2 separate regions of the Homo sapiens genome follow, and region 2 is linked to region 1. A link means that fine-mapping ties the variant in region 1 to the expression of a gene that starts in the linked region. Tissue or cell type: whole blood. Region 1 holds a variant in brackets; the other region holds the start of a gene. All regions are shown on one strand. Distances are from middle to middle. Region 1 overlaps SLCO4C1 (solute carrier organic anion transporter family member 4C1). Region 2 holds the start of SLCO4C1 (solute carrier organic anion transporter family member 4C1).

Evidence for each region. PIP is the estimated chance that this variant, and not a neighbour inherited with it, causes the effect.
Region 2: SLCO4C1 starts here. The variant in region 1 is fine-mapped to the expression of SLCO4C1 in whole blood (INTERVAL, PIP above 0.99).

Annotation. Positions count from the first base shown.
Region 1 is chr5:102,233,315-102,238,704 of GRCh38, reverse strand. It overlaps SLCO4C1 (solute carrier organic anion transporter family member 4C1), which reads left to right. Exons shown (of 13, transcript NM_180991.5): 13 at 1,687-4,719. The coding sequence ends at 1,847. Among named protein-coding and RNA genes, the nearest start is that of SLCO4C1, 60 kb to the left of the region's middle. The variant A/G (reference allele first, on the strand shown) is at 2,953.
Region 2 is chr5:102,294,087-102,299,476 of GRCh38, reverse strand. It overlaps SLCO4C1 (solute carrier organic anion transporter family member 4C1), which reads left to right and starts at 3,193. Exons shown (of 13, transcript NM_180991.5): 1 at 3,193-3,569. The coding sequence starts at 3,215. RefSeq lists an enhancer at 3,228-3,427.

The DNA of each region.
Region 1 (5,390 bases):
ATCTAGTTTACACTAGTAAAATAAAAGTTGAAATTTAAAAATTTAAAATTTGAATAATAACCTAGGAAACTAAAATAGCTTAGAGAAATCCTGAATGTATGTATACATATGTATCTAATATAATGTGTGATTTTCATTGTGATTATTTTGACACAGGTTGATCAAGATAGGCTATTATTACTCTTACATGCATGTAAATCCAGAGTATGCTTTCTGAGTTGATAGAGATAGAGTAATAGAATATTTGCTGAAGAAATAATCTATAAATTCTTATAGCACTTGGGGAGTAAGTATTGACAAGTATAGGCAAAATTAATCATCCCATTACTTTACCTGTTGTTAAAAACCATTTTTTATTCAATTTTTAAAATTATATATTTTTACCACAATCATGGCTACATACAATGTTTTTATGTTTAAAATTTATTTAATTCATTTTGTTTGTACTTTTTGGTCAAAGATATAGATAGAACAAATCATTCATTTTCCTAGTCAATGATGAATGGGAATCCCCCCACAAAATATATAAAACCTTAAAATTTTCAGAATGAAACAAATAAAAAAAGTTGTAAGTTGTACCTATGTAACTAATCATTCTATAGTCTAGTAATGCCTAGATGAATGAGCATTCCTGTTTTTCAAATACATGTTTTTAAACAAAATATTAATAATCAACAAAAAGAAACCAGCTACTGCAAGAACTATACTGTGAGACCACGTTGAATTTATTAGGCTGGCAATTATTAAATGCTTATACTGTGGTTGGAACTAGTTTCTCTTCATATAACTGAACTTAAAATCAGATTTACTTGGAAATAAATCAAAGTTTGTGAAGTGAATCTTAATGTTTATTTTTAGCTGATAAGAAGAGTAGATTTGGTTAAGTATTGAGTGTGATATCCTCCCACAGAGGCTTTAAGAACTCCAAAACCTTTTTAATTTTTAGAATTATTTTCTGTCCTGGAAGGGAATGTTCTTCAATTTATTCAGGTTCAAGAATGTTACAAACTACTTTCCCTCATTATTGACTTTTGGTTGCTTGCAATTTTTTATAGATATCATATTGTGTTAACGAATTTATTTATTTATTTTTGAGACGGGGTTTCTGTCTGTCACCCAGGCTGGAGTGCAGTGGTGTGATCTCAGCTCACTGCAACCTCCACCTCTAGGGGTGAAGCGATCCTCTCACGTCAGCATCCCAAGTAGCTGGGACTGCAGGCTGTACCATCCATCATACCTGAATATATTTTGCACTTTTTTTTTTTGGTAGAGACAGGGTTTCCTATGGTGCCCAGCCTGGTCTCGAACTCTTGGACTCAAGACATCCACCTCTCTCAGCTTCCCAAAGTACTGGGATTATGGGCTTGTGTTAACAAATCTAGATGGTGGCCCAATTCCTATTTAGTTCTATACAACACTTATTTTACAAGAATGCACAAGCATAACCAAGAATAAGTTAATTATTGTGCTCTATTACAGCTTAGAAAGAAAATAAGTACTAGTGACTTGAATTGTATACAAATGTTTTTTCTTTCCCCTTAATGTTTCAAAAATTTTAAACATAGAACTATAATGGTTATGTAATTATTCTCTTTAAAAATGTTCTATTCATGAAGATTTTTCTCAGTGATAATTTTTATCATAATTAAAAACAAAAGCACATGATTAATTTTTTTTTTCACTTAGGTGTTACTTGTAAAGTTATCACCATGTTCTTCAATGGATTTGCAATCTTTTTGTATAAACCACCTCCATCAGCCACAGATGTGTCATTTCATAAAGAGAATGCAGTTGTGACTAATGTTTTAGCAGAACAGGATCTCAACAAAATAGTAAAAGAAGGGTGAAATGGGAAAAGAGAAGACTGTTTTACACCTGGAAAATTTACCTCGATTTTTAAGAACACACATTGCCATGGCAGGATTATCTATCCAATATGGACAATCATATTTACAAAATTGATGTTTTTATAATCAAATGTATTTTTTTACTTATGTAGTTTTTGTTTTATGCAAGAAACAGACCTGTGCCTTCAAAGCCCACGTAAAGCCTCAAAACACAGCACACACACACACGAGCACACACACACACACACACACGAACACACACACACACACACACACGCACACATACACACTTATTTCCTATTCCCATTGTCTAGGTATGAAATCCTCAAGCAATAACAAGAAAAAAGGCCCACAATTAGAAAAATTTACATTTAAAAAAAATGTTGTTTCTATCCCCATTACAACTTGTTTAATTTTAATTTTCATTGTCAATATTTTGAGCTTAGAACATTTATGGTATAAAAATTTAAACTAATCAAAGTTGTGTGATGATTTCCGGGAATTATTATTGAAAGCCTATGAATTTAAAACCAGGTTTACCATGTAATTTGTTTTTAAATTTATGTATACTAGCCTGGCCTTTCTCCAAGCAAATTATTGAACTATTAGAATATGTTAGTTATCATCCTTGTGTCTTAGTATATAGTGAATACAGAAACATCAGCATTGTATACACATATTTTCACTTTAACTCAAGAATTCCAGGAGGTAATTTGTTGATATTACAATTTTTAACACATTTATGATTCTGTGATAATATTATTCAATTGCATATATTTCAGAGGAAAGTACCAGTCAGTAAAGAAAAATGCCAACTAAACATGAAACTATTGATCAATACTTATATACCTTTAATTTTTCCTATTTGAAAAGCCAACCACTTAACACATTACTCATAGCACCTAAGACAGTGCCTTGCATAGTGTAGTCATCTATTATTATTGTTTAATTAGAATATTAAACCCTACCCTTTAACTCAGCAGTCCCCAACCTTTTTTGCATCAGGGACCATTTTTGTGGAAGACAATTTTTCCATGGGGGAAGAAGGTATGGTTTTGAGATGAAACTGCTCCACCTCAGACCATCAGGCATTAGTTAGATTCTC[A/G]TAAGGAGAGTGCAACCTAGATCCCTTGCATGTGCAGTTCCCAATGGAGTGTGCACTCCTATGAGAATCTAATGCCACTACTGATCTAACAAGAGGTGGAGCTCAGGCAGTAATGCTCACTCACCTGCCTCTCAGCTCACCAACTGTGTGGCCCGATTCCTAACAGGCCACACACAGCCCAGGGCTGGGGACCCCTGCTTTAACTGATGCATTGATTTGATAAAGTATTTTACAAGCCTGATAATGTTATAACCCTGTTTATTCAGGTCAGATTTATGCCAACTTTGCTGAGAATATGGAGGGTATAGATGAGTGAACATCAACAAACATAACTTCTACCATGGTTAAGAATTTTACTTAGGAAAAGTATTGAAGTTCAAATCCAGATAGTATTACATTTGAAATTGTTATAAGGGTTATTAATTTAATAAAATTCATCATCAGGTTTCCCCTATAAGCTTTCTCCTAGGTTAATTTTCCACAAGCATTGTTTTATATACACTGTAATCAGGATAACACAAGCTTAGTGTTAGATCTTGTAGGAAACCAAGATTAGAAACATTAGAAATTTGCAGAATTTAAGAAATTATGTTTTGTGGTAATCTATGGCCAACGATGTTAGAACCTAGCGCAATTGTAAAGTGAAATTCAAGGAGAAGGAATGAGGAGTTAGGGAAGCAGCATACTTGAATATTAGAGAAGGAGAGGAGCTGTGGGTCAGGAATCAGAGAGACCTGCTAAAACCAGACAGATATAAACACCAAAGACGGAAGCCAAATAGGTAGCCAAAAATCCAGATATTTGAGAAGCAGGAAATTTATAGCAACCAAAGAAATAGGGCAAGAGAGGCAGGTGAACACACATGATACCTCAATTGACAATCTTCCTCCCACCAAGCCAGACACGTTGTAAATGCTGCTTCCTATTGGAGCCCAGAAAAAAGGAAAAGGAAAGTTTAGGCTTTCTTTGTCCTTTGTGTGGAAGCAGGGAATTGGATTGAAGACTTTCATAGTTGTAACATAAAGGCAAATCCTGAGGAACTCACTGATGGAGATGTGAAATGGCAGTAAGGAAGAAAACAGAATAACTGAACAAATATATTAGTCTAGGGCCACTTAATTTAGAGGAAGAAAAAAAATCAACCCATCCATAGAAATAGTTTGATAAACAGGTCACTAAATCATTGGCGTTTATAAAGATTCTTAGCTATCAAGGGCTGCATTGTATTTTATATACTCAGTTTTATAAGGTGATACTTTTTAAATAAGCGCTTTAATGAAAATGGTTAGACTGAAAATAATTTTGGTCCTTAAAAGGAGTCAGGAGCTTTTATATATAAGGTACATATTTTAAAAGAATACCTCCTTTATAACAGGGTTTTACAGACACTACCATAATTTATAATCATTATTTTTTACTTTTGGGTTCACCTAGATCATATGAGTTGATGTGATACTTCTAGAACAAAATTATTCATAGTGCGTTTTTTGTAATTTATGATTGTTAAGTAAGCTTGACTTATAAATTGACATTGTAATTGTGTACATAATTGGATATATGTGTTAAAATTTAACATTTAGATTTACTTAATTGTAGAAAATACAAATGTAAAACTTACACATGGAAAGAACTGTATGCAGTTGACTTTACTATGTAAATTGGAGGGAAACAAAGTTTTAGATCCATTTTCTTTCAAAATTTTCTTTATTGTAAAGTATGCAAAATATATATTCATACCATTTATTAAATCAGAATGTTTATACAAAATTGTCGTGTTTGAGCTTATTAAATGACACAGGTTTGAAACTTGCCTTATCTCTGTGAACATAAGCATATTTTATGGATGGGAAAGGGAAATTAGTATGCTTTTGAACTTGGTGAATGTATTAATAATTTAATCCAGTGATTTCTTGTATCTCAACAGATGTTTTTAATTCAATACAAACCACATGTATTATGAAATATATATTAGGGAAATTCTCTTACACAAGTTTCTACATATGACAGATTAATATATAAGATTTATATAAGTAGGATACATTTTACAGATGGTTTATTTGTAAACTATCTGATAAAAAAGTGTGGGATGTGTTTAATTTATCTCAGTTTATTGTAATAGTAAAATATTTTAAGGAAATAATATTAGATGTTAATTTGAAATGTAATGTTCTTTTCCCCCAGGCTCCTTCAGCTTTTTTTTCAGTAAAGTCCAATAAACACTAACTTTTACAGCACATATGAGTAATCAAAAATAGATGAAAGATAATCCACTTTGAAAAACTCAATGGGTAAGTTGGATTATAACATTTTAGTGCTTCAGCTAAAATTAATTTAGCTTATAAAAATTATCAAGAATTGATCATTTTTTTCTTTTCAAATTTAGTGCGTCTGACTTTCCATTTAAAATTTTATTTTGTAGTGCTTTTAGACTTTGTAAA
Region 2 (5,390 bases), 61 kb before region 1:
CACCCTTTAAAAACATAGCAAATAAAATGTACTATAAGAAGAGTAAAGTATCAATTACCTTCTGAAATTTAAGATGGTATATTTTGACTGTGTTCATTAGAGGCAGATTTAACCTAGATTGACCAAACAATTAATTTTAAAATGGACGTTTTTCCATAGAATTATCAGGGATGAAAACTAACAATTTTTCTTTCCTATTTTTGTTTTTTGGTTTTTGTTGCAAACCGAAGCCCCTTCCATCACTGCAGCATAAAGAATGTAAGGGAACAGGAAATTGAAACTTTCAGTAAGAGCAAGATGTATTTAAGATGAAGCAATAGTAATTTTGCTAATCTTTAACCAAAATTCTCTCTCTAACACTGTGAGAGTGGAGATTTCTCCTTAGTATGAATTTAAGTGCACGATGATTATGCTACTCTGATTTTGATAGTATAGCATGGATTTATTAAGTCACAGCTGCAAAATAGTCTTAAGCCATGATTGTATGTAATCACATCCCATCAAAACAAAATTTTCTGGTTGTGTAAATTACTTCGTATTCCATAGATAAAATGGTGATCAAAATAGTTACCTACTTTGAGTCCATTTTTGTAGAAAGCAAGCCCAGGAAGATTACATACCATGCTTAATTTGAATACCTCCAAAATCTAGGTTTTCAGAGCAGCATTAATCTTCTAAGCCTCACGAATATCACAGAATTTTGAATTTTGATCTCTTAAAATTGCTATGCAATAATTTAACCTGATGGAGATACACTGTAGTTATTAAAAGACAGAAAATGCAAAGTTTAGGGAAGACTTCTGGCTAAGAGAGCCGAGTTCAGATCCTTAAGTGGCAGTTCACTTATTAGCTATGTGACTTTGGGACAGTTACTAATTCTTTATGGGATATGGTTTCCTCAATATGTAAACTATATATAACAGTGCAGCTGCTTTTGTAAAGATTTTAATAATGGGGCATATAGCAGACATTTTAAATGTTAGCTCCTACTTCTACTCTTTCCCCATGTTTTAGGCCAATCTAGAATTTATTTTTATTTTTAATTCTTATTTTTTTGAGACAAGGTCTGGCTCTATGGCACAGCTGGAGTACTCATTGCAACCTCACCCTCCCAGGTTGTAAGCGACCCTCCCACCTCAGCCTCCCAAGTATCTGGAACTACAGGCGTGCACCACCATGCCAGGCTAAGTTTTGCATTTTTGGTAGAGACAGGGTTTTGTCGTGTTGCCCAGGCTGGTCTCAAACTCCTGGACTCAAGGCACCCACCTTGGCCTCCCAAAGTACTGGGATTACAGGCCTGCACCTCTGCGCCCGGCTGGCCAGTCTAGAGTTTTCTCGATTGTGAGGAAACAGGTAACAGAATGTACCTCTGTCCAAAGTAAGATACATATTTTATATCTGTCTCTCAACCCAGTAAACACAGCATATATAATTGAAACAAAAGTTTCACAAAATAGTATTTATCATATTATGTGCCATGTACTATGTATTATTACTGTCTGTTTCCTATTAAAACATAAGCACCATAAGGGTAGGGGTATTTGCCAGTCTTTGTTCACTTGTGTACCCCCAGAACTTAGAACAATGTTTGGCACCTAGGACACAAGAATTTTTTGTGTCTGTGTTAAGTGAAAGAATGAATGACTAAATTGTACCTACCATGACACAATGGTGTTAAGCTCTTCGAAGTGTTTTTCTTATTTATTCCACAGTTAGACATGTATTATTATTATTATTATTATTATTAAGAGACAGAGTTTCACTCTTTCACCCAGACTGGATTGAAGTGGCACAATCTCGGTTCACTGTACCCTCCACCTTCCGAGTTCAAATGATTCTCCTGCCTCAGCCTCCCAAGTAGCTGGGATTACAGGCCTGCACCACCACACCTGGCTAATTTTTGTATTTTTAGTAAAGACAGTGTTTCACCATGTTGGCCAGGCTAATCTTGAACTCCTGACCTCAGGTAATCCACCCGCCTCAGCCTCCCAAAGTGCTAGGATTACAGGCGTGAGCCACCGCGCCTGGCCCGGTAGAAATTATTTACATGATTGTCATCACTGTATATCTTACATATGCAATATACAGCAGAGAGACAATTTCTGGTCCTTCAGTTTCGGAGAAGGAAAAGCAAAGCAGTGGTTATGCTGTGATGTTCATCCTGGTGGTGATGGGGGTGGGGTGGGGTGGATTTCTTTTTCTAAGGAGGACTGAGGCAGGAAAATAGGGTCTGGAGGCAGGAAACATAAGGCCTATTCACACTTCAGCTGTAACAGGAAATATCCTCTCCATAGGGCGTAGGCCATAAATGACTTTGTAACTTTACTTCATCTTCTCCCTTTACATAGGGCATACCCAAAGTAACCAATGGAATCCTCTAGGGGGTATTTAAACTCCCCAAAATTCTGTAACCGGGCCTTTGAGCCCCTATGCTCGCCCGTTCCCACACTGTGGAGTGTACTTTCATTTTCAATAAACCCCTTCATTCCTTCCTTGCTTTGTTTGTGCGTTTTCTTCAATTCTTTCTTCAAGATGCCAAGAACCTGGACACCTTCTACCAGTAACAGGATGACAGGCAAGAGTCTTATCAAGATGCTCATGAACCAAAGTATACCTCTGACGTCTTGATTCTTGGAGTCCAAGCCTAGACTGCTTTGGTAAGCAGCAAAGGAAGAAAACGCAAGATAGTTTCCTGAACAATCTCCTGATGCAACTGTTTACAGGTTTCATGTCAGCACCCAAGGGGAGCTTATGGCCAGAGACTCCCACAGTCTCTGTGTGTTCCCAGTGCTTGGGCTCAAGGGAGGCGCGCTGCGGGCTGAAGGCTCAGGTCAGAACCGCAGGGGCTTGGGCGGAGGCGGACTCCGGTCGAAGGCTGTGGGGTGAGAACTCTCGCCCCCTCTACTCGGCCGCCGCCGGGTGGCACGCCCACGCCGCGCCTTCCGGTTGGTCCTTGAGGCGACGGGTGAGGCACAGCTGAGCGCCAAAGCCACAGGCTGGGGCGCTAACGCCCCCGCTCAGCGCTCTGCGCTCCAGACAGCTGCGAGCTGGAGTAGGAAGGTTCAGGCGGTGGCGGAGAGTGCGCTGGAGGCTGGAGGGCCAGGAGGCGGGAAGCTTCCCGCACGGGGGCGCTGTCACCTGCCTGTGGGAGGAGCCAGAGAGGGACCTGGCTCTGCTGCTCTGAAGCACCGGAGTCGGGAGAACCCATCCAGACATGAAGAGCGCCAAAGGTATTGAGAACTTGGCTTTTGTCCCCTCCAGCCCAGACATCCTGCGCCGCTTGTCTGCGTCGCCCTCCCAAATCGAAGTCTCTGCCTTGTCCTCTGACCCCCAAAGAGAGAATTCTCAGCCACAGGAGCTTCAGAAGCCCCAGGAGCCCCAGAAGTCACCAGAGCCATCTCTGCCTTCAGCCCCTCCCAATGTCTCCGAAGAGAAGCTCCGGTCACTGTCGCTGTCCGAGTTTGAGGAGGGGTCTTACGGCTGGAGGAACTTCCATCCTCAATGTCTCCAGCGCTGCAACACACCTGGAGGCTTTCTGCTTCACTACTGCCTCTTGGCCGTCACGCAAGGTAAAGTCCAGCGCCCGCTTGAGGCTCGGGCCAGTGGAGAGCGAGGTGGGCACGGCGAGCCAGCCGGGGGAGAGGGCAGGTGCGCGGGGTCCGTGGGACGGTGGACGCGCCCTGCAAGGTGGCCCCGGGTTTGGAACTTGCTTGCGCTCTCACCAAGGTCAACCTACCGGCCCCCAGCCAGCCTTCCAAAGTTCAGCTTCTCCTTTATCACTACAGTTCAAACTTGCAATACAAGCCTTTTTCTCTTTTGTGTTTTACCTCAGTTTAGCGGATTCAAGACTTACAGGGAAGATTACAAGAACCTTCCTTTGGGAAAGGTATACCCTGGGGAGTTTATTTTACATTATAAAGACAAAAATTTACCTAGGCACTCTTTAAAGGTATTTTACTTTTACATTTGTTTCATTGCCTCAGGGGAAGGAGTAATACGTTTGCAGGTGGGAGTGGGATGCCTTACAAGGAAGAAAGCTATGAAAAATCTATCGTATAAATTAGATACAGACATTCATGTTTTGTGAGTGTATTTAGTTTGAGAGTATGTGGTCACCAGAGGAGCCCAGTGAGTAAATTAGCAAAGGCTCCCGACGTTGTTGAGCCTTAATCTTCATTGTGTTACATTAGTTATCCAGCATCTGTTTTGTTCTAGGATCTCTTTTAGGTTCTCTTGGGAGTTACAGATTCAGTTCAGATTTATACCCTCAGGGGCTTGCAATCTAAGCTCAGTTTGGAGGAGTGATATCCTGGAGGGAGAACAGCTCCCTTGAAAGAAGGCACAGGGAAGGTTAAAGCTGCTTCTGGTGTGTTCAATACAGAGGTTGAAGGAAAATAGGAAGTTAACCTGAGTTGACTTTGAGGAAGGGTGGAGAAGAGGTGGAGAGGAGTCAAGAAGGACATGCCGAAGCTTAGCTGAATTGGAATGTAGATATTTTTTGGTCACTTGAGTCATAGTCCGAGAATATTTTCTGTATAATCAGTCAAGGATTAATTGGAAGAAATACAACCTTAGAAATATAGATTTTAGAGGGTTGGAAACAGCTCATTTTTTAAGTTAATAGAAAACTAAGTCAAAGCCTAAGTATACTTTTTGTTCTTATTCTTCCTCTTCAAGGAACCCAGGGCCCCTTGCTTTGCGCATTAGATGCTAAGTAACCATTTATTGATTGCAAGTCCGCTGCAGCTCTTCTACTGAAGGTAGATTTGTGTTGAAGAATTATTTCCCTGTCCACTTTTCTTGTCCCTACCAAAGTTCCCCTCCATTAATGTCTTGATCATAGTTTTACAAAATTGGTAATTGTGAAGCATCTCAGTGTCAAAGGAATGCGAAGATAAAAAAGTTGGACACAAGTAAAAAATGTCTTATCTTGTGTATTATCTTAAAATTCCTCTGAAATTTCTATATTATTCCAAAATATAACATTTTATATTTAATATAAAATATTGCCTAAAATTGTTATCAAATGTAATTGTCACTCCTAGAAAATTTGTCAGGTTTAGTCTGGAGCAGCATCTACCCAGAGGTCCCCAATTTAAGAAGCTTAATCTGAGATAATAGTGACCCAATAGGCTGGGCATGGTGGCTCACGCCTGTAATCCCAGCACTTTGGGAGGCCGAGGCGGGCGGATCAGTTGAGGTCAGAACTTGGATACCAGCCTGGCCAACATGGTGAAACCCGTCTCTACTAAAAATACAAAAAATTATGGCCGGGCGCCGTGGCTCACGCCTGTAATTGCAGCACTTTGGGAGGCTGAGGCAGGCAGATCAACTGAGGTCAGGAGTTCGAGACCAGCCTGGCCAACACGGTGAAACCCCGTCTCTACCAA